Linked DNA regions of Homo sapiens. The protein of the gene in region 4 interacts with the protein of the main gene of each other region in a pairwise test. Each region holds a gene or a part of one and is shown on either strand. Other genes may lie near its edges. The genes, in order: BCAT1, MTMR10, SOX7, SMAD5, CXXC5, PPIL4 and RYR2.

Region 1 (3,500 bases), on a different chromosome or scaffold from region 4:
AGGTTGCCAGCTTCTTTAAATGGCCTCTTCTCAACTGGTATAGGAAGTTGGAAAATAAAGAACTTTCTTTATTTCCCTTTAGTGTTGGTAACCACAGTTTCTTTAAATAACAGATGCCCACCCCAGGGAAACCCAGTGGCATGATCAGCCTTATGCTCAGGAAGGTTTGGTTGCTATACTGGAGAGTGAGAATCTGGGACCTTCCATGATAGACATAATTGTGCCAGCTATCCTCTACTTTCTATATGATGCTATCATTCTTTTTTCTTTTCTTTTTTTTGACAGAATCTCACTGTGTTGTTCAGGCTGGAGTGCCGCAGAGTGATCTCTACTCACTGCAACCTCTGCCTCCTAGGTTCAAGCAATTCTTGTGCCTCAGCCTCCTGAGAAGCTGGGATTACCACCATGCCCAGCTAATTTTCGTATTTTTTTGTAAAGACGGAGTTTTGCCATGTTGGCCAGGCTGGTCTGGAACTCCTGGCCTCAAGCGATCTGCCCATCTCGGCCTCCCAAAGTGCTGGGATTACAGGCATGTGCTATCATTCTTTTTGAGCACAGGAGGAAACTATGGCTGATCTGCTCATTTTACTGTCAAAAATATAGGCAGCTTTTGTATTGTAACATTATCCCCTTAACAGCTGTCCAACTGGTCTATACATTTCACCTAACATATGGTAAATGTTCCTACTGTTGGCCTTTCCTGAGCCTCTGTCCATTCAACTAAGGCCACTGCAATGGGATTGTATGCAGTTCAGCCAAGAAATAAATGTGAGGTGCAACTCACATTTTTTAAATGTTTCAAAATTAAGCATTTAGGTGCTTTTATTCATAAACATGACTTTGCAAATATTGGTAAACAGTTTCATCATAAGACCTTGTCAGTGACTCACAATGTCAATGGTGAACGCAAAGGAGAATCTGTCTTTTCTGGAACACCAGGTTCAGGTATCAGTTTCAACTATGCTTATAATTTGTGCTCTAAAGTCCACAAAGCTAAATTATCTTTCCCCTAAAAATTGAGTACTCATATCCTTAAAATAGCTTGGAAATTAGATTACCTTATGAATACAGCATAGCATGTCACATAAACGTTTTTCTACTGTTATACCTTTTTGGTGGGAAAGACTATTTTGCAAAACATTTTTCTTGTGTTCAGTAATTAATGGGAAAAACAAACTCTAAAAGAAAGAGACAGTTATGTCCCAAAAATACAGGAAAATGGAAGAATGGAAACAGGGAAGACCAATAAAGAAAAAAATAGAGGAAATTACAAGTAATAAACTGAAGTCATACTGAAAAACATATGGCTCTTTCTTATTGAAAGTTGTGAAATACTTGCAAAACTCAGCTAGTTCCATTAAGAATAGTCTTTAATCTAAAAAGAACAAATTCATTTGTCAGTTCTTTATTTCGGTGTGTAGATTTGAATGTTTCATCAATTGCATTTACGGTTTATCCCTCAGTGTGAGAACTGTTTTTGCTGTTTTGACTATAAATGGATATCTGCTTTAGGAAGACTTAGGAAGCCTGGGACATAGGATTACAGATCAAATTCTATTTGACTCCATAGAAGTTGAGACGGAAGGAGCACCTGTTGGGATATTCTAGACCAAACATTCCACAGCTGTCTCTTAACGTGACTGACAAAGAGACACAGTTGAGACGAAGTTTGGGTATATCCTGGGATGAGGCCAAGGGTGGATTTGCACAGGATGGTCACAGGGCAGTTGTTAGCATTCCACCACTACATAAAAGGGTGATTTTGCCAAGTGCATTTCATTTCATTTCAGTTGATTTAGATACCAAGTTATATTGTTTTGACTTTAGGACTAGATGTGAGTTCAGGAATTTGAAATCATAATAAATGTTTCCTTGAACTTTGAAGATAAAAGGTAGAGTTAAAAGACAGCTGCGAAGTCTACATGGGGAAGCATAATACATGACTCAGGGTTCCATGGTTTTCAGTGTCGGTGAGTGCTCTGTACACTTATAAGAATAGTGCTGGTGTTTATAGAAGAAACACATGCAGGTTTGAGGCAAGACTTCCTTGCTTAATTGGTGCTTTTGCTTTCCATTTTCTAAATGCCATGCAAACTACTTTTTTTTTTTTCTTTTGTTGAGACGGAGTCTTGCTCTGTCACCCAGGCTGGAGTACAGTGGTGCGATCTCGGCTCACTGCAAGCTCCGCCTCCTGGGTTCACGCCATTCTCCTGCCTCAGCTTCCTGAGTAGCTGGGACTACAGGCGCCCGCCACCACGCCCGGCTAATTTTTTGTATTTTTTGTAGAGACGGGGTTTCACCATGTTAGCCAGGAAGGTCTTGATCTCCTGACCTCGTGATCTGCCCGCCTCGGCCACCCAAGGTGCTGGGATTACAGGCGTGAGCCACCGCTCCCGGCCTCAAACTACTTTAACTGAAAACATTCTTCTAAGGAAAGCATCAGAAAACTTACTAGAATTGCTTAAGAATAAATAAATAATACAAATAAAAGAGCAAAATGAGAAAGTAGACAGACTCCTAGTCTATTGTGCTATTGATCTCTCCAGGTTCTAGGCTTTCTTGGGTCTGACACCACTTTGTAAATTTTTTTTTTTTTTTTTTTTTTTTTCCAGATAGGGTCTCATTCTGTCACCTAGGCTGGAGTGCAGTGGTACAATCATGGCTCACTTCAGCTTCAACCTCCTGGGCTCAAGTGATCTTCCTGCCTCAGCTCCCTGAGTAGCTGGGACCACAGGCATGTGCCACCACGCCCGGTGAATTTTTGTATTTTTTGTAGAGATGGGGTTTCTCCATGTTGCACTGGCTGGTCTTGAACTCCTGGGCTCCAGTGATCCACCCACCTTGGCCTCCAAAGTGCTGGGATTACAGGCATCCGTCACTGCACTGGGCCAGTTTGTAAATCTTATGAAAAGTATGGCCAATCTTTTGCAAAATGTGCAAACACATATAGACACAAAGTTTTATATCTAAATTATTGGTTATTAAAGCCAGGACAATAGAGTGCATATAGCATGGAAGACAGGTAGAAAAGACTGAAATGGTTTAGTTATTCAGAGCAGTGGAGGGCTATTGGCTCTTGCCTTTGCAGTCAGCTGAGATATGAAACTATATAAGCAGAAGCTTCACGCTGCCATTTGAATATTGAAAATCTCCACTTTTAGTTCAAGAGATAAACAACCAATGGTTTGTTTGTTCACAGCACATAAGTTATCACTTTCTTCTCTGTTTCATCCCATCAAGATCTAAGGTGTATAGTTACAGAATAGAACTCGGTTCATACCATATGCACCCTAATTTCTTCGATCTTCAACTAGTTTGGAAGTGTGTGTGGGTGTTTTCTTAGCCAAGGTTAATATGCAATTTCTTAGTGGAGTGTAGGAGTTTGGGGTGCCTAGCCTTCCTACTTCCCACTTAGATAACTTCCCCTACCTGTTGTACCTGTCAAAGGAGAAGGCCAGTATGGCCATGTTCTTTGCAGGTGACTCCACCTTAGCCACAGC
Region 2 (3,500 bases), on a different chromosome or scaffold from region 4:
GGGTGAAATGGCACTTTGGTTCAGAATGGTTTCAAGTTTGGCTTGAGACCCTGCTTAGTCATAAATCCTCTACATCAATGAATTGTGACCAGAAACTTCAAACTCGTGAAGGAAAATAATCTTGTTTTGTACAACTTTTTATCCTACTGACCTAGGAAATAAATGTCGTGTAACAGGGCTTTTGTTTTTTACTACCCAATAGCCCAAATGTGAAATATAAATACAAAAGCATGACATTTAAGGTGGTTAAAGTAATTTACATCTTTAAAGGGGTTTACTACAAAACATTTACATTAGAGTAAAACAAAAAATGTTCATTCATAAAAATAATTTCCTAGATTTTTGTGTCTTCAAAATAATCCATTCAGAAATTTCAGCTGAAAATGGCAGTAAGAATTTTAAATCATAAGATTTTAAATAGGCAGTGAATTATACTTCAATTATGCCTCGATAAAGTTGTAAAAACAGGGAAAACGTAGCCACAGCCACAGGGTTGCTTACCGTGCTTTGCTTCACTCGCTGGTGAGGGGAGTTGAACAGGAAGGTGCCAAACAGTGAGATCCGGGTGCTGTCATACAACACTGCCAGGTAGGTTTCGGAGAACTCAAAAGCTGCAGGATATTGTTCTAACAGCTGCCAGGTGGCATCCAAGAATAGCAAAAATAAAGGAGACTGGCAAATACAAAGAGACAATGGGATCATTTAATGTTATCCTTCAGCCGTTCACATTTACTTCAAAATGTACTGCTGATGTTAAAGAAGAGATGAATGAGAAAACATCGAAGCCTAAAACACTTGCCTTCTAAGCTGAGCTATACACATCTATCAAACCCAAGAAGTAACATTCAACCGTGATAAACATCACAACCCTTATTTGCCCAGTACATGTAACAAGTTGAAACAGCAAAGCACACAGTTGAGCGGGTTGCCACTATATGAAGGGGGAAGAGCAAAATATGTGTTTAAGCATGTCTTAGAAACAATTCTTTAGATTATATAACAAAACAAAACCATCAACCAAACTTCTCTAATGTTTGGTTGATCCTGTAGGCTCAGCATCCAGAAAACATCCCCATATTTCAGAAAACACTTTGGGATGAGCCTAGGTCACGTGGTGTGTCCCCAAGTGCAGTAGCGGGTGACCACTATTTTTTATGAGACACCACAAGTCAAATGGCGCTCTCTGAAACAACCTTCTAAAAACTGATCTGACTGACCTGCCTGGCCGGTAAGATATTTGTAAGGCCTTCCGCAGCCTAACTAGAGATCCGAGGCAGCCACTAACTCCACAGCTGTTGCAAAGGTGGCCCTCTCAAACTTTTCATCTTAACCTATGTATCCCATTTTAAGAAAATATGATATTCCAAAAGTGATTTTTCAAAATAGCCAATGTGCTTGTTATCTGTTTTTCAGTATTTTATTCAGAATTTTTTCAGTAGTTTTCCACTTAGACAAATTCAATAGACAACTTTTAAAAATTTCACCTTCATAGTTACGATAATCTTTATAATAAGTACATCAATTTGAACTCTAATCCATTAGTTAGCTTTGGACTAAGGAAATTAAGTTGTACTAAATACAGTATTTTTTAAAAGCCCCTTCATCTTTTAATGACACAAATTTTATTTTGTGTATCCTTAAAGACTGATAAAAAGGCATCAAGATTTTGTTACCTCTTTCTCTGATCTCTTTAGATGGTTGCATCTGTCTAGAAACTGATATCCTGCCATGACCCACTCCTTCTGTATCAGACTCTGAAATCCAGTAATTGTCCTAAAATAGGGATCCAGCATCACTTGAACAAGAGAAGCTACACAACAGCTCAAGTCTCTTCCTTCCTCCTCTGTTAATAAAATGGAAAGAAAATGATTACAACATAGAAAAATGCTGAGAGAGAAAGGGAAGGAAAGGTAAACTAGATAATTTAGTATTCTGCACACCTAGGCTGCCTTCCAAATCTGTATAAGGAAATTTTACTGGATTCCAGCAACTCTAAAATATTACAGACTTGTAGATAAACTAAATTAGCATTTAATAGGAGATGGTCTTTTATACATGGATATTTGCCAGATAATAGAAGCTCATCACTCATACTTTTTACATTCGAATGGTTTGTGGTAGAAAATCCGTCTAGACTCCATTCTACTGCTCTTTTGTCAAGGTATTAAGTATAAGGTAATCTTTCTACTGACAGGCCACATGGCAATACTGAGAAGTGAATGGGGAGAGTGGGACTGTTCACTACCAACTGAAGCTGTGGCAAACGATTCCCTCCTGTCTTTTATAGTTGTTGTCCTTTCCAATAAGGCCAGAATTGCCACGCTATCAAAGTCAGCCAGGGAAATCAGAAGACAACTATTGACCAATATCCCTTATGATTACAGATGTAAAAATCAATAAAAATATGAGTAAACCAAATTATCCAGGAATGCAAAGTTGGTTTAACATCTGTCAATTGTAGTAACGTACCACAGTAATAAAGGACAAAACCAACACGATTATCTCATTAGATGCGGAAAAAGCATCTGATACAATTCTACCTTCATTCCTGATTAGGAATAAAAGTAAACATATTTAAACTGATCAGAGACATCCACAAAAACCTACAATTAATGTTATTCCCATTTCACTGGTGAAAGACTGGATACTCTCTCCCTAAGATCAGGAAGATGATAAGGATGTCTGTTCTCTACACTTCTCCATCTCATTGAACTGGAGAATCTAGCCAGAGCAATTAGGCAAGAAAAAGAAAATAAAAGGCATTCAGATCAGAAAGAAAAAGGTAAAAACTGTCTTTGAAGACAATATGATCCTGTATGTAAAAACTCCTACGGAATCCACAAAATAACTACTAGAATTAATAAATGAGGTCAGTAAGGTTACAGAAATTCTGTACACAACAATCTGAGTACATAGTAAACCTGAAAATGAAATTAACAATTATATTCACAGTGACATAAAAATAAAATACTTAAGAGATTTAACAAAATAAATATAAGACTTACATAATAAAACACTGCTGATAAAATGAAAGATCTAAATAAATGAAGCAGCATAATTCATAACAGCCACAAAGTGGAAACAACCCAAATGTCCATCAACAGGTAAATGGGTAAGCAAAATGCATTTACAAACAGTGGAATACAATTCAGAAATAAAAAGGAAAAGATTGCTGATACACACTACATGAATGAACCTCAAAAACATGTATGTTGAATGAAAGAAGCCAGCGGCAAAAGGCCACATATTGTATGATTCCATTTATATGAAATGCCCAGAAAGGGAAAATCTAGAGACAGAAAGATTAGTGGCTGCCTGGAGCTGGGACTTTTGGGGTGATGAAAAATTTCCAAAACTAGACTCTGTATATTTACTAAAATTTACTGAATTACAAATTAAAAATGGGTGAATTCCATAGTATGTAAATTTTTAACAAACTGTTTAAAAATAAACGTATATAAAAATGCTAGTAAAATGAAGGTTCAGTGCTACTTCTGAGG
Region 3 (4,244 bases), on a different chromosome or scaffold from region 4:
TAATCCCAGCACTTTGGGAGGCTGAGGCGGGTGGATTACCTGAGGTCAGGAGTTCGAGACCAGGCTGGCCAACATGGCGAAACCCCGTCTCTACTAAAAATACAAAAAAAAAAAAAAAATAGCTGTGACAGTTTTAAGTAAGCAAACGAGTAGACAAAACTTACTTTCCTTCTTCAGACAGCCTCATAGTCACCTCATTCCACTTTACGAGTGTAAAGTCGTCACAAGGAGAAAATTGTTCTACATGTAGGTCATGAGTTGACATTTTCTTTCATTGTCAATAAAAACAGCAGATTCCAATGCGTAAAATTTGGATTTATCTCTTTAGCATAACTCATAAAATAAAATAAACCATCCCTACCAGATAACAACTTTTTAAAATAAAAAAGTCGATGTAGAAAACATGTTGATCAATACCACAAGTAGCACCCGATGTAACATTTATGTCTTGCTTGGAAACCTTTTCTTTTTGCAAAACTATATTTCAAAAGATAGAACAGTCATGGTACAAAAATGTTTATTTAAATTAAATATTTGCAACAAATTAATATTGACAACTGTTCCAAAGTATGAGTTGTTCTTTCAAAAAAACGAAACAGTTTAGCTTAATGTCTGTGATACTGTTTTATGAGATTATTCATACATGCTCTGGACTGCGCATCAGTCAATCATATCATCAACAATTTACTATTTATTACCAAATGGCATATAAAGTAATAGCATAAAGAGTAATCATACCTTATAAGTGATTTTACAATAGGACATCTTAGAAGGACAAAAAGGATTTATCAACAATACAAAACATAAGATAAAAATAATAGGAGATTATATAAAACATATTTCATACAGGAAATAATATGCTAAAATCAAAAAACCAACAACTGTCTTTCAGCACACTGTTATGCATGCTCCTTTAAAGGAGGTTTGGGGGAAAGATGAAAATATTTTGGGGGCAGGGGTCCAGGGCTCAGAAACATTTTTGGAATCACAGTGAGTTTCTGATTTGCGGGAAGTTGCTCTAAAGCACTGGCTGAGGACTTTGCCTGAGGACCTGGCTGGTGAGGAAGACAAATTCTCACAGCAGCTAAAGGAAGCATGCTTGGGATAAGTCAGGGGCTGTTTCAGTTAGGGACCAGTTCAGCAGTGGAGGAAGAGCAGAAAGAAGAGAAAAAGAAATCCCAGAAAAGAGAGTAAGGAAGCTGGAGACAGCCGGGAAGGAAGCACCTTTTGAATCTACAGAGGGGAAAGTGTGTATCCAGATTTGAAGACAGTGACTTTGCTTGGTTGCAAAGTCCTTTTAGGTACCCTGGGTCTTTGGTCATTAGAAACAGGGAGTTGGCAACAAGTTGTCATTGTTAATAAAAATATCTGATTTAGACTTTGAGTTTAGGAGTTGCATGAAGTGGGCATGTGTCTCTCACACTCCTGGTATACATTCAGACTGTGCATATTCTTTTTTTTTTTTTTTTCTTGAAATGGAGTTTCACTCTTGTTGCACAGGCTGGAGTGCAATGGTGCAATCTCAGCTCACTGCAACCTCCACCTCCTAGGTTCAAGACATTCTCCTGCCTCAGCCTTCCAAGTAGCTGGGATTACAGGCATGCACCACCACTCCCAGCAAATTTTGTATTTTTCATAGAGACAAGGTTTCACCATGTTGTCTAGGCTGGTCTCAAACTCCTGACCTCAGGTGATCCACATGCCTCGGCCTCCCAAAGTGCTGGGATTACAGGCGTGAGCCACCGTGCCCGGCCTAGACTGTGCATATTCTCTTGAAGTGTGTGTATAATAAACAAATTAACAAAAAAAAAGAACTGCTTTAAAATGTATATTTAAAATAAAATAGTTTTAACTCAATCCCATTTTCTGTGATATAGTTAGCCATACTGGTTAATTTCTCAAATCAGGTTGACTGTTTTTTCTCAAATTGTATGAGTCCCTTTGAAATTTTGTGGTCACTTTGGAAGGGGGTGCAGAAAGTGCAGAAAGCCTCGTGGTCCTTGGGCTGTGCACACAAAATTATCACCAGATCGTAGGTTAGCGAGCTCATTAATGAGTCAAATTTCCCCATCTTCCTTTATTAATCTTGAGAGAACCCTAAATCAGAAAACTGGACCAGAAGGGACCTTGGCTATCAAGTCTGTCCCCCCATTAGTTTCGATGATGGCTACCAAGAAAAGACGTCAGTGAACATTCCACTGGGAGACAGCAACTCTCAGGGGCTGGAGGAAAACTCACTTGAAGGAATATACTTAAAATGTGGGCTGCAGGGGCTGGAACGTGGGGAAGGGGATAGAGGCGGCACTCGGATAAGGAGAGTCCAGCTTAGGCCAAAGGCTCTGGGGCCGCAGTTCAGACCTCCCTGCCCTGAGCGGTGGGAGGAAAGCTGGTGTGGCTGGACGGCTCCTCTGCCACTCAAGGCACAAGAAGGAGAGGGCGCGAGGGCTGACCGGACGGGGCGCCTCCAGCTCTATGACACACTGTAGCTGTTGTAGTACGTGGCCGTGGCATCAGCCAGGACGGAGATGAGGCTGGTCTCTGTGGGACCCGTTGGTGTCACCTGGGAGACCGGAACATGCCCACTGAGGGCCATGGCCCCTGTGGCGGAGTCTGGGTGGCCAGGAGTGTTCAAATACTGGTCGAATTCATTGCGATCCATGTCCCCCAGGAGTTCCACCTGGCTCAGTTGATCCAGGGCGTCGAAGCCAGGGTGCTCAGGAGGCGGGGAAAGCTGGCCCAGGTGGGCTTGGAGGTTGGAGTGGAGTGGGTGGTAGGTGGCCGGGGAGTAATAGGCAGGAGATGGGGGACAGCCGGGTACAGGGGACATCATGGAGACGCCGGGGGACTGGCCAAGGGCCAGGGAGCCCAGGGGGTGGCTACAGTGGAGAGGGCTTGGGGCGTACTCCGGTGAGTACGGGTGCCCTGGCAGGTGGGGGATGCGGCGGGGATGGCCATGCTCCTCCTGGCAGGGGGAGGAGAAGAAGGTCTGCTCCGGCTCCAGCACGTCCAGGGGAGACATTTCAGGAGGTGTGGGCAGCCCGTACGGGTACGTGTCCACACTGCTCGGGGTGCCGCCGCCGCCACCACCAGCCGGCCCCTCGTGGTAGCAGCCCCGGAGGCTGGGCAGGGCAGTGCCGGGGGAGTACTCACCCCTGTCCTCCTTCTCCCCCAGCGCCCCCCGGCTGCCGCTTCTCTTCTCCGGCAGGGCGTTCTGGTCCCGGGAGAGGGAGCTCAGAAGGAAGCCCGGGTCCACGCGCTTGCACAGCCGCTTGGCCTGCTTCTTCCTGCGCGGCCGGTACTTGTAGTTGGGGTAGTCCTGCATGTGCTGCAGGCGCAGCCGCTCCGCCTCGTCCACGTACGGCCTCTTCTGGGACAGCGTCAGCGCCTTCCACGACTTTCCTGCTCACACAAGGCAGAGGAGGCCATGCTCAGTGCTGTGCCCCGCAGGCATCGCACATGCACACGCGTGCACACACACGTGCACATGCACACACACCTCCCTTCCCCCTCCCAGCCACAGAGGACACGGGCATCTCTTGCACCCTCTTCCCAGCCCAGATCCTGCAGGCACAGTGAAGCGAAATCAACCCCTCTGCTTGCATCCAGAAAGCCAGATCGTGCACGGTGCACACAGAAAGCATCACCTCTCATATAAAAGCCGCCAGAGCGTGCCCACACTACAATGCGGGGTCCCCAGTGAAAAGCCCACCTGACCATATGTCAGCTACGGGAAGAAAATATCTAATGATCACGATATTGATTGGGGCTCTTTTTACCCTTCCAGGGTCCATTCTAAACATTTGTGTATTCTCATGAAAATCTCTGCCTTCATTGATTAGTGCAGGCTAAAGAGATACTATCATATTTACCTATGGCATAAATCTCACAGCCCTTTCTGGGAGGGAACCCAGGCTCAGTCAATACTTTCACAGATGTCAGTAAATCAGAGATTCTCACTTAGGTTAACAAATACCTATTCCTTACCTCTGAAGGTCGAATAGAACCCTGCTGGATGACTGAGGCCAGAATGCTAGCATCTGCTTGCAACACATATACGCACACCCAGACACATGCATGCACACACATATACATGCAAACCGTCACTTCCAGCCAGCCATCTTTTGGGGACCCTTGACGGTGCCAGGGCACCTGCTTAGCCACAGATCTCCATGCAGAAGCCATTCCCTGCACTTTCCAGAGTCTCTATTTTCTTCAGTATAAAATAAAGATATTGTGACACTCTC
Region 4 (3,500 bases):
TGCCATTTAGCCTATCACTTAGTTTTATCCTATATTTATTTCCATATGATAGCCAACAGAAATAGGGCATTAAAATTGAGTTTAAAAAAATGTACACCAAGCACAGAGAGCCAATAATTGAACAGACAGGAAGGTATGCTCCTTCTTACACTAGAAACTGGAGGGACTTAACAGCTATGAACCCATTATCTGCTATTATCTTGGCCTTTCATAGTATACCTTTGGTTTATGAAGACTTGACTTGATAATACCCTTTTATTGATGTATTTTGTCATTTCTTAGAGAAATGACCTCAAAGCTAGAAAGAAAACCAAGGTAATCATAATATTTAGAAATTCCTGTGTACGTGAGGTTCCCTGATTCTTCTGAAAAACTGCAACCACTGACTGAACACAGAACGTCATTAGTGTACCAAAAGAGATGCAGTGGTACCTCAGCCATAAATGAAAACCTTATAAAATTACGGTATATCATGAATTACAAATGAATCTATCACATTACAAAACACACACACACCTCACCTCTCTTTCAGCTCAAGCATCCCTTCTTCGGGGAAGTCTTCCCAAACCGTCCTGGCTAGAAGTCCCCCTCTTATATGCTTACCGCATCACATACTCCTACTTTGTAGCACTTACCACACCTATGTTTTTACATTTACCTTTCAAATCTGTCCCCACAAGAATGTAAATTCCACGAGAAGAGCTGTATCTGTTTTCACTCATCACTGTAAGCCTAGTGATACATATGCTCAATAAATATTTGTTTAATGAAAGAAAGGGTTTGTGATATTAGCTCTGGTGGTGGGGTTAGGTGTACTTTTCACTTTCTGCTTCATCTAATTCTATATTTTTTAAAATAAACATATTTCTTGAAGAGTCAGAGGAAAAACAGGTTTCAAAATTAAAGTGCAGCTATACCTCAGCCATATTATGAACCCTTACTAAAGAGAGGATTTACATTATCATGAGTCATTCCTGCTTCAAAACAATTCTCTCTAATATACTTGGGGTTATACAAATTTGGAGGTTGAAACTAAGAAAAATCAAATCAGAAACTAGGTACAAATACTTCCATAACTATAGTACTCTAGGTTAATCAACAGAAATACAGAAATGATTATCATAAGGTACACCTACTTCTTTAAGTATATGTGCATTAACTGACTCAGCAGCTATAACAGCCATGAATCATTAAACACTTATTGAGCACCTACTAACTAGCAGACATTGTAGGACATGCAGGGGTTTATCAGCACTAGCCAAGGGTGAAGGAATAAATGAGAAGGCCTTTTTCTAAGTCCCATACAAAGGTACTATATGAGTGAAGAGTGGGAATAGCAAAAATGCAAACGGGACAGAATCTCCCTTCACAGAATAACGTAGCACGACAGACACCAAACTATACCCCTATATGTAAGTACAATGAGATAAACTCAAGTTACTAGAGGAACACAGAGAGACAGAGAAAGGGCATGTAATCCAGGTATCTAGCACTTTTCACAGTGTGTCCTGTTACTACAAATGAGCTGTTGCTCCTCAAAACAATGAAATCAAACTCCAGAAGCATTATTCCTGCTCCCAATAAATATTAGTAAGAACTCATTCTTCAAAAGCATTTATCTTCCTATACTGGAATGTCTTTTGAACCTCAGATATTACAAATGCCATTTTCTGCTTATACCACTTTTCTTAATCCCTGGCCACTAATTTTTAGCTCTATCGTTATTTAAGTCTCAGCTTTAGCTCTCATCCCAGATACCTTCCCTGATCACCCCATAATCCTATATAGAGTTTCCCTAATCTCTAATCCAATACTATGTTCATTTTCTTCACTGTATTAACTGATTCATAATAATTTGTTCATTTACTTTATTTCTGTCTCTCGCACTAGAATATAATCTTTAAAAAACAGTACCACATACATTACAATAACTTGTCAAATTCATTCAAGTCATTCATCCAAAAGAATATTTATTAAGATAGCATTTTAGGAGCTGGGAATATAGAAGTGAATAAAAGGAACCAAAACACTTGTCTTCATTTAGCTTATATTCCAGCAGAAGGAGGCCAACGAGATATAGTAAATGATATGTTTGTTAGGTGAAAAGTGCTATAGAGAAAAATTAAAACAGGGGAAGGTGGACAAGAAGTCCTGGAAGAGAGGTGTAATTTTAAACAGGGTGGCTGGGCTGGGTCTCACCAAGAAGGTGCCAACTGAGTTAAAATGTTAAGGAAATAAAAGAGTGAGCCAACAGGCATATATCTAGGGGAAAACCATTACAGGTAAAGGCAACAGGCAATGCAAAGATCCTAAGGTAGGAGCATGTCTGGCATGCTTCTGGCATGAAGAGCATATACTGGCTAGAAGACCAGTATAGCCTGAGAACACAGTGTACGAGGGGGAAAAGGTAAGGAGTGGGGTCAAAGAGATACCAGAGAGCCAGAATGGCCATGCTGGATATAAAGGCTTTAGCTTTTACAGTACTCTAAGGAAACTGTGAACTCAGTGGAGAGCTCTGAGCACAGACATGATAGTTCTCGACTTACACTATTAAAGAATTATCCTGGGCCGAGGTGGGCAAATTACCTGAGGTCAGGAGTTCAAGACCAGCCTGGCGAACATGGTGAAACCCCGTCTCTACGAAAAATACAAAAATTAGCTGGGTGTGGTGGCATGTGCCTGTAATTCCAGCTACTTGGGAGGCTGAGGAAGGAGAATTGCTTGAGCCCGGGAGGCAGAGGTTGCAGTGAGCCAAGATCATACCACTGCACTCTAGCCTGGCCAACAAAGCTAGACTTCATCTCAAAAAAAAAAAAAAAAAGAGTTATCCTGGGCCAGGCGTGGTGGCTCATGCCTGTAATCCCAGTACTTTGGAAGGCCAAGGCAGGAGAATCACTTGAGCTCAGCGGTTCAAGCCTAGCCTGGGCAACATAGTTTTTAAAACTCCATCTCTACAAAAAAAAATTGTTTTTAATTAAAAAATTAGCCAGGTGCAGTGGCACATGCCTGTGATCCCATCTACTTAGGAGGCTGAGGTGGGAGGATCACTTGAGCCCAAGAGGTCAAGGTAGCAGTGAGCCAAGATCATGCCACTGCACTCCAGCCTGGGTGACAGCACAAGACTCCGTCTCAAAATAAATAAATAAATCCTGGCTGGTATGTTGAGAATAAGCAGGAGGAGGGGTGGACAGCAATGATAAAAGCAGCGAGACCAGTTCAGAGATGCAGTAATCTAAGGGAGGGGAGAAGATGACGATGGCTTACAACCAGGGTGATAGCAGTGGGGTGGTGAGCAGCAGACATATGAAAGACAGTAAGCTTCCTGATGAAGGAGATCATGGGGTGTATGAGAACAAAGGAGTTAACAATGATTCCAAGGTATCAGCCTGGACAACTGGAAGAATGGGGTTTGACATCAACTGATTTGGCAAATGCAGATAAGAAAGCTAAAGGAAGATTCAGGGTTAAGTTTTATACACATTAACCATATGAATAAAATG
Region 5 (2,517 bases), 3.5 Mb from region 4:
TGAAACAGAATCCCTTAAACAGGGCAGGGGAGAGACCCAGAGTTCTAGGTCATGGACTGGATGCTTTAGGCCATGTCTGAGCATCAGAAACTTAGGACCTGTATGGAAATCTCAATACCTGACCCAGAACCCAGGAGAGGAATCAGAATCCCAGGGCCTGGCTGAGAATGCTAGGTCCTTGCCTGGAGTTTTATGCTTGCCTTGCAAATTATGGCCTGATAGGATTCTCAGAATGTGGCTCTGACTTTTGGGGCAGTAAACTGGTGTCTTGAAGCCAGACCCCCAGGCCCCAAGGACTGGGAGGGGGCATCCCCCAGACACTTGCCCAGGTAGGAAAAGTGGGGTCAGGGGATGGGGGTGGGTTTGGACTGCCAGACAGACACAAGAGCCCACACACCTCCCTCTAAGGCGCCGTTACCTCCAGAGCAGCGGAAGGCTTCTTTTTGAGTTCCTCACATTTTCTGAATTTGCAAATCTGATGGCCAGTCTTTCGATTCCTACAACTGCTGCACTGCTCGCAGTTGATGCGCCGCCGGCAGGGCGCGCACATGCCGCAGCGTTTCCGCTTCTTCTTGCCGGAGCTGATGGCAGAGGCCAGCTCTCCCTGCATGGGGTACTCAGCCAGGCCCGCCATGTGCAGCGCGCTCTCGGCCAGGAACACACCTGCCGGGGTCATAATGAAGAGGCCTGGGTTGATGGGGAAAGCGCCCAGGTAGGGGAAGTCGGACTGGCCATTGAGGGCTTCGGCACCTGCCACAGCCTCCATGTCAGGCAGGCCAGCACCCGCCTCGCTCATCAGCGGGAGATGCTCCTGCACCACGCGCTTCAGCATCTCTGTGGACTGCGCAAACTGCTGCAGCGTCAGCTGTCCCTCGGCTGCCAGCTCCGTGGCCCGCTCTGCCTTGCTCAGCAGGCTGGCCACAGCACCACTTTTGTGCTTTGAGGTAGGGTTGCTTTTGTCCACCGCCATGGCCGCCGCCAGGTCATGCCCATTGGCCAACAGGGAGGCAGCGGCTGCAGCCGCAGTGGCCTTGTCAGCAGACTCTCCGCCCATCATGCTGCCACCGCCACTACCACCACTGCTGCCAAAAGAAGAGTAGTGGGAGAGCGGGCGGGAGCGGCGCAGGCTCTTGTTGAGGGGCTCACTGATGATACCGCTCTTGTTCCGACGCTCGGGGGGTGGTGTGTCATCTGCCACTGAGGCTGGTGCGGCGGCAGCCACCACTGCACTCTTGTCTGCTGCTCCTGCCTTTGGGCCACTGCTGCCACTGCCACCGCTGCCATTGGTGCTGCTGCTGCTACTGCCGCCGGCATCCTGGGAGCCACCGCCGAGGCTCGACATGGTGGGGCCGAGGCCCAGACCCCACTGCAGAGGGAGCCTGCCAACTGCCGAGGGTCCACAGACCAGGACCTGGCCCTGCTGCCCACAACAGAGATGCCTGGTGGGCCTCGCTGCTCAGGGCAGGCACATGGTCAGGTGTCCAGGTGGAAATGTCTTCACTCTGTCACAAGAGGATACAGGGTCAGGGCAGCAGTGAACACCTCCCCCTTCAACATCGCCACCACCGCCACTATCAACGGTCCTGTCATCCTGACCACCATGTGCTTGACCAGGCATTTATTAAGCACCAGATCCATCCTGGTGAGAAATTTCTTATTTGTACTATCTCAGTTAAGACCCACAAGAACTCTAGAAGCAGTGGCTGGTAATCTACTTTATAGATGAGGGAAACAAGATTTAGGAGAACTACCAGTCTATGAACACACAGCCACCAAGCGGCATGGTGGAGGCCCTAGTCCAGGCCTCCACAGCCCAAATCTGCTCTGCTAGGGTCTAGGAAGACCTGCCAGAAGCAGGCAGTCCTTCTTGTGCTGGGGTGGGAGAGTGTTGGAGATGCTTATTAGCTGGGTGCAGTGGCTCACACCTGTAATCTCAGCACTTTGGGAAGCAGAGGCAGGCAGATCGCTTGAGCTCAGGAGTTTTGAGACCACCCTGGACAACATGGTGAAACTCTATCTCTGCAAAAAATACAAAAGTTAACCAGGTGTGGTGGTACATGCCTGTAGTCCTAGCTACTCAGGAGGCTGAGGTGGGAGGACTGCTTGAGCCCAGGAGGTTGAGGATGCAGTGAGTTATAATCATGCCACTGCATTCCAGCCTGGATGACAGAGTGAGATCCTGTCAAAAAAATAAAAATAAGAAAAAAACCACCTCCACATCCTAATCTTCCTTCTCCATCTGAGGAGAAGAGTGCTTGATGGTACAGATCATTAAGTCTGGAAGGCTGCCCCTGGATCCTCATCTGGGGATTACTAATACACATCAGTTATTTCAAGGCTCTGACATGTCCTGCAGGCAAAGGAACCTGGTTGCCTTTGTGTAACCCAGTTTGCCAATGAGTGCAGAACCCTTATTTCAGGGATCTTCTCCCCGCCTGCTACAGGGCGAGCAGCACAGGGCCAGAGGACCAGCCGTCCCCTGCCACAGTGAGAGGACATGCTTGTGCACACCCTGGC
Region 6 (3,500 bases), on a different chromosome or scaffold from region 4:
ATTCATTTAATTATTGACATGTAATAAATATGATTATAACTATTTTATCTGCTTCTCTTTGGATTATCTCTAGTAAGAATAAGTTTCCAGGAATGTAAAAGAAAATTGGTCAGTACTGAGTTGAAATATGTAACTGTCAGTGTCAGAAACAGGGATTTAGAATTGTGAAGTTACTGACAGGAAGGATTCTTGTGTAGCACAGAGCTTGGTATTACAGTCTCACAGTTCATTATCTAAAACCCTTGAGAATAACTAGGCTTCCTAATTCAGAATTTTTCAGAATTCAGAAAGGTAATACTGTATATATGCATACACACATACACATTACATCTGTGATTATGTAATACCTTTCTGGGTCAGCATTCCATAATCTGTCACAAAAGTATTTCTGCAGTGAAACAAATGAATATTCATACTAAGTGGATAAAAAAAGGTCATAACCTACCATTAGGTTTGGTGTTACTGCCAAATTAATTTTAACAACAAACTTAGGAACACAACTTTCACTTTCCAGGATGTTTTTGAATTTTGAGTAAAAAGGATTGTGAACCTGTATAATACAGTCAGTAAGTGTATATTTATCTGTTCACTGCAGTTGGACTGTCTCTCTAAAATCCTGGCTCTGACCCTTGCCAACAACTTCTATACTTCTCTAAACTTCTGTTTTCTCATTAAGAAAATGGATAGTACCTCATGGGGTTGTTACCAGAGGTATTTGAGGTAATAGATACAAAGCATTTAACAGCATCGGGTGTGTAATAAGTATTCAAACATTAATTTTTGTAACAACAAACTTTTTGTATTTTCAGTATTCTAGCTACAGAAATCTTTTCCATAAAGATTTATGCTTGAGTTTTTATAATTATTATCAGGAAGAAGATTGTGAGAAAGCATTCTTCAAAATGGACAATGTGCTTATAGATGACAGAAGAATACATGTGGATTTTAGCCAGTCGGTTGCAAAGGTTAAATGGAAAGGAAAAGGTATGATGGTTTATCTTTTGTTTTTGTTCTGCTTTTTTTTTTTTTTTGAGATGGAGTCTCGCTCTGTTGCCCAGGCTGGAGTGCAGTGGCACGATCTTGGTTCACTGCAACCTGTGTCTCCCAGGTTCAAGCCATTCTCATGCCTCAGCCTCCCAAGCAGCTGGGATTACAAGCATGTGCCACCATGCCCAGCTAATTTTTGTATTTTTAGTAGAGATGGGGTTTCACCACGTTGGCCAGGCTGGTCTCGAACTCCTGACCTCAGGTAATCCACCGCCTTGGCCTCTCAAAGTGCTGGGATTACAGGCGTGAGCCACTGCGCCCGGCCTTGTTTTTGTTATGCTTTTCATGCTTGTATGAGCCTTTTATTGAGTGCTGTTAATTAGGAGAAATATTAATTGATGTAACTCCTGCCATTTGTAATTTTACAAACCTGCTATCTAGAATCTGAGGTAGAGTGTGTGTGTGTGTGTGTGTGCACACACATGCATGTGTGCACCTGTGCGTGTATTTTAAACTGATGAAAAATTATATTTTCTATGTTTGACTATATTATAAATTACTAATAATTACCCACTGCAGACATGATATGTTTCCAAAGTAATTATTTTGACTTTATGGTGTTTTGAGTCTTTTAGGTGCACAACTTAAATTTTTTTTGTTTGTTTTAGTTGTCATATGATGCAAAATAGAAAAGGTCCATGGAAAGGTAGATAAAAGTCTCATTCATTCCTGCTCCTCATCTATCTAATTTCTCTTCCAGGGTAACCATTATCACCTATTGGTACTAACTTTCCCCTACATTTTTTGAATACATATGTGCATATATATATATATGATTTTCTCCTTTTAAAAAGGAAAATATAAAACAAAGGATGCAGGCTATACATACTGTTTTTGTACCTTGCATTTTTTAATTAACAGTGTATCTAAGAGATCAGTTCATATCAGTATATAAAATGAACCAGCCCTGTTAATGGGTTTTCTAAATTTTTACTCTTCCATGTCCATAGCAGTATGTTCCACCTTTGTACATATTACATTTCCCACATACACATACATATATGTCAAATACATTGCTCGTAGCATGTCAGTCTTAAAAGTTGGGTCTCTCATATGTTGAAATAATACGAGTTTTTGGTTTTTGATGCAGTGTTTTTAACAGGTTTCACTTTGATAGTTACTCACATGTAATGCTAAATTTTACTGGGAATTTCAGGGTTACTTTCTTTTTCTATAACACTTATTTCCCATGCTTTTAATGAACTGTTTTTTTTGTCTGTTTTTAGTAAGAAAGAAAAACACTATTTAGTTGTGAATTGCTGAATTGTTTGGTGGATTCTGTTACCTTATGGGAGTTCAGAGAAGGAAGAAATTATTAATGTGACTAAAGTAGGCAAGGAATGTTGAGTGGAAGCTGTGATCTCTGTGATAAAGGAGAGGGTGACTTGGATTGGAGTTCCATGTACTATTAGTTTCTCCTGTGAAACCTTACCTCCTCCTAGAACACATGGCTAGTTTTTGACAGTGCTGTTTGAGTGATTTGTGAAACCTAAATTGAAGCACTAAGATTTTTTTCCACATATGAAAATTACAACTTTGTGAATGAAAGATTCCAGTAAGTATATTCAAAGTGTTGGTGAGCTGCTGGCCTGATGCAGTGTAGTTCTGGCCAGTAGTAATGCCAGGTGGCTCTTATGTAGAGCTCTGCTTCCAAAGAGCTAGTTTAATTGTATCATTTGGGAAGTGTATGAAATAAATATTATAATTCCTCATTATAGATATGGAATTTGAGGCATAATCTTGAGAAGTGATTTACCTAGAGTCACATACACAGATGATTTAGACAGACCCTACATTTGGTTTGTTTTTTACCCTCTCAATCCTGTCTTCTTCTCAACCCATCCACCCATTGAATAAATACTACTACTTTCTTGTGACTTTTAAATAAATTTCTTCATGTTTTTTCCTAAGATAAAATGTCACATAGGAGGGAGAAGCTTTGGTTTTGTATATGCCATCATAAACATACAGTTTATTATTCTCAGTTAATTTTGAGATAATTATATATGTTATTGATTCACATTTATAAACTTAATGTGTATAATGTGCCATTCACAGCACTAAGAACTTTCCTTTATAGTCTGATGATTCCAGCAACTCTGTGAAATGTTGGTATTATTTTCAGTTTATAAATGAAGATAATGTAAATAAAGATAATGAATTGCAGAGAAGTGGTGTCTTACCTAGGACCTCCCACTACAGTCAAGAACCTCTTACATTAATCTGGTGCCCTTTCTGTTATACGGTAACTGCTTCATCCATAGTGAGACTTTTAATGGCAGGCAGATGGCAAATAATTTTTCAATGATAAATGATGGCTGTTTGTTACCATTACCAGTTATTTTAACTCTTGCAGTAGACTGTTTCACATTTATGGGAAACATTGCTGGCCACTTTTGTTTCTGGAGTCTCTGGAATTGCCAAATAGATTGATCTTGTCTTTTTTGCTTACC
Region 7 (2,653 bases), on a different chromosome or scaffold from region 4:
TGCTGGTGAGGTGTAAGATGACGGAGAAGTCACCGGTACCCACAGCAGCACTTTGCACACAGCAAATGTTCAATTGGGTTTTGAATGTTTAATACACCACATGCTAGGGTACCGATTCTCTTTCATATTAAGACAGAAAATGAACTCCTATTATTATAGGAAATGAATTTGCCCTGAGCAAGGAAGAGCTTTCAAAAATGAGAGCTATATAAAAATTAAATAATCTGGGAGATAGCGATCTTTTTTTTCTGTCATTGGAGGTTTTCAAGAGGTCTGGCTGACCCATATAACAGGGAAATGACAGGGGTGGGCCAGGTGCCTGGTGACTCTGAGGCCCCACAATTATATACACAACAGTCTTAGAGGTACCAGGAAATCTGACAGCGTTAAAGGTCTCAGTGCAGTGTTTAGGATTGTCCTATATCCACCTCAAGTTAGAAGCTCAAGATTTTATGAGTCCCAGTTATAAGTTTTAAATGGAGAAAGAAGAGGATGAGAAAGTTAGTTAAATAGTTTAATCAGAGCGGTTTTACAGTTCTAAAATTAACAAGCAGACTTGTAATAAAAGAGCTCCAATGTTTGCAAAATGACCTTGTTTCCATTCTGAATCTGACTTTTTAATTGTAAAGGTTAGCATTACATTTAAAAGGACTCAAAATGGAAAAAATGGAGTGATGTATATTATCATCCGTGTTTTGTGATGCAACTGATGAAATCCCTGAATGGATATTGCTTCAGCTTTGATATTAAAAAATGGCCTGACAAGAAGTCCTTAATCAACAAAACTGATCACAGGTGGCTGAAAGAATGAGCAAAACCCAAAACTACTGTCAAGTTCATATTGTATCACATTGTTGGTGGATGACACTGGCTCCAGATATACAATTAAGCCCACGACACTTTATTACTATGAATAATTATCATGAAATTTCTCTCACGTTGATCAACTTGTTTCTGAAGGTTTTCTTTGTTCATTTAAACTTGCATAATAAACATGCAATGAATGGTTTCTTTTGAAAGTGTATTTTTTGCAGTCTTTTTGTTTTCATACAAAGATTTCATAAAGTTGCAATGTTGCATCAGAGCATTACCAAAATAATAGCAGGAGCATATGGGGGCGGGGGCGGGGGGGGGGGGCAAATGTGAATTTAGCTGAATGAGAAGAGCCTCCTTTTGTCCTGAGACACACCACCCGTTTTTTTTTTTTCTTTTTAAGTGCAAACTGCTTTTCTTACCCTCCCCCACTAAAGAAAAGACTAAAGGAAAAAAAAAAAACCTCACAAAATCAATCTAAGAAAAGAAAGGTCGACATAAAGAAAATAAAGATGTTTTTTCATGCACGTATCTTCTGCATAGCTCAACCCACATATAGTAAGGCACTATTTCCCTTCGCAACTGGTGTCCATGGCAATCTGTTAAGTGCTACAGTGCTCTGTGACCATTAGACAGACAGTTTCCTTCCAGGATGGTGAAATAAAGAGGCTGGGTGAGTGTGGCTGCCACGTGTCTCTGTGAAGGTCTCGTAGCTCGAGAAGACTCCGGGAGTCTCAGAAGAAAATCTATCTATGTGTGTTATGACAGTGTCCAGAATGGTTTTCTTTCCAGAATTCCTTTTTTTGTCTGAGTATGAATTTAGATTATTCTTCAGTCTTTAGTCTCAAAGTAAATACAAAAGGTGGGGGGAGGAAACAGCTCTTCCGAAACAGAGCTTCGATGCTCCCAGAAAACACACAACGCTGGCAATTCACAAAATCAGCAAAATGTTTCCAAGAGAGCAGAGAAATTGAGAGAGGGAGAGAGAGGGGTAGGGTTTTGGTTTTTAGAGGTGATTGGGTCTGAGTTTAATTTAGCTGGTCTTCATACTGTTTCCGGAAGCAATCCCCTGCTGGGAAAAATTCCCAACACCTTTCTTGATACATCTTCCAGACATAAGATTCCTGCAAAAGTCAAGGAAATGTATTAACATTTTCCCCAAAGTGTGTGCTAACAAAACATAAGGTAGAAACTCAATTCTGTTACCTATATCGCACGGAATAGAGAAGTCCACATTAATTTAGATGGTTCCTAACTAACTATACCAGACCTTAACGTCTCATAATAATCTTCATCCTGACCATTATAATGATAAAAATATGTTGGCTGGGCACACTGGCTCAAGCCTATAATCCCAGCATTTTGGGAGGCTGAGGTGGGAGGATCGCTTGAGTTCAGGCATTCAAGACCAGCCTGAGCAACATAAGAGATCTTGTCTGTACTAAAATTAAAAAAAAAAAAACACAAAAAAAAGCCAGGTGTGGTGGTGCATGCCTGTAGTTTCAGGTACTTGTGGGGCTGAAACAGGAGGATTTATTGAGCCCAGGAAGTCAAGGCTGTAGTAGGTCCTGATCATGCCACTTGAACTTGGCAAAACAGCAAGACCTTGTCTCAAAAAATATATGTGTGTGTGTATATATATACATTTATGCTTCTGAGGGTTCTCTTAAAATATCGTATCCTTCAAATTCAAACTACTAACAATCTGCACAGTGGAAGAGGAATTTCAAATAGCTTAAACACCTTAGGCATTTAACATGCATTGTACATAATACTTTGAAGTTCATTGGAAATCATCTATCTGATTAAACAAAGACATTATGCAATAATTAAGAACTCA

What was found.
Region 1: the proteins of SMAD5 (region 4) and BCAT1 interact in a two-hybrid assay, tested with the Homo sapiens proteins (one large-scale study listed by BioGRID and IntAct).
Region 2: the proteins of SMAD5 (region 4) and MTMR10 interact in a two-hybrid assay, tested with the Homo sapiens proteins (one large-scale study listed by BioGRID and IntAct).
Region 3: the proteins of SMAD5 (region 4) and SOX7 interact in a two-hybrid assay, tested with the Homo sapiens proteins (one large-scale study listed by BioGRID and IntAct).
Region 5: the proteins of SMAD5 (region 4) and CXXC5 interact in a two-hybrid assay, tested with the Homo sapiens proteins (one large-scale study listed by BioGRID and IntAct).
Region 6: the proteins of SMAD5 (region 4) and PPIL4 interact in a two-hybrid assay, tested with the Homo sapiens proteins (one large-scale study listed by BioGRID and IntAct).
Region 7: the proteins of SMAD5 (region 4) and RYR2 interact in a two-hybrid assay, tested with the Homo sapiens proteins (one large-scale study listed by BioGRID and IntAct).

The regions. Positions count from the first base shown.
Region 1 is NC_000012.12:24,942,602-24,946,101, reverse strand, and holds part of BCAT1 (branched-chain-amino-acid aminotransferase, cytosolic), read left to right. Parts: intron 1-3,500.
Region 2 is NC_000015.10:30,946,629-30,950,128, forward strand, and holds part of MTMR10 (myotubularin-related protein 10), read right to left. Parts: intron 1,844-3,500; coding exon 1,674-1,843; intron 673-1,673; coding exon 502-672; intron 152-501; coding exon of another isoform or gene 98-151; exon of another isoform or gene 1-97.
Region 3 is NC_000008.11:10,723,268-10,727,511, forward strand, and holds the end of SOX7 (transcription factor SOX-7), read right to left. Parts: intron 3,400-4,244; coding exon 2,471-3,399; 3' UTR 501-2,470; downstream 1-500. UniProt on the Homo sapiens protein: Binds to and activates the CDH5 promoter, hence plays a role in the transcriptional regulation of genes expressed in the hemogenic endothelium and blocks further differentiation into blood precursors.
Region 4 is NC_000005.10:136,139,345-136,142,844, reverse strand, and holds part of SMAD5 (mothers against decapentaplegic homolog 5), read right to left. Parts: intron 1-3,500. UniProt on the Homo sapiens protein: Transcriptional regulator that plays a role in various cellular processes including embryonic development, cell differentiation, angiogenesis and tissue homeostasis.
Region 5 is NC_000005.10:139,679,349-139,681,865, reverse strand, and holds part of CXXC5 (CXXC-type zinc finger protein 5), read right to left. Parts: intron 2,020-2,517; exon of another isoform or gene 1,926-2,019; intron 1,503-1,925; 5' UTR 1,343-1,502; coding exon 419-1,342; intron 1-418. UniProt on the Homo sapiens protein: May indirectly participate in activation of the NF-kappa-B and MAPK pathways. Acts as a mediator of BMP4-mediated modulation of canonical Wnt signaling activity in neural stem cells.
Region 6 is NC_000006.12:149,518,544-149,522,043, reverse strand, and holds part of PPIL4 (peptidyl-prolyl cis-trans isomerase-like 4), read left to right. Parts: intron 1-872; coding exon 873-984; intron 985-3,500. UniProt on the Homo sapiens protein: PPIases accelerate the folding of proteins. It catalyzes the cis-trans isomerization of proline imidic peptide bonds in oligopeptides.
Region 7 is NC_000001.11:237,831,836-237,834,488, reverse strand, and holds the end of RYR2 (ryanodine receptor 2), read right to left. Parts: intron 1,938-2,653; coding exon 1,842-1,937; 3' UTR 501-1,841; downstream 1-500. UniProt on the Homo sapiens protein: Cytosolic calcium-activated calcium channel that mediates the release of Ca(2+) from the sarcoplasmic reticulum into the cytosol and thereby plays a key role in triggering cardiac muscle contraction. Aberrant channel activation can lead to cardiac arrhythmia.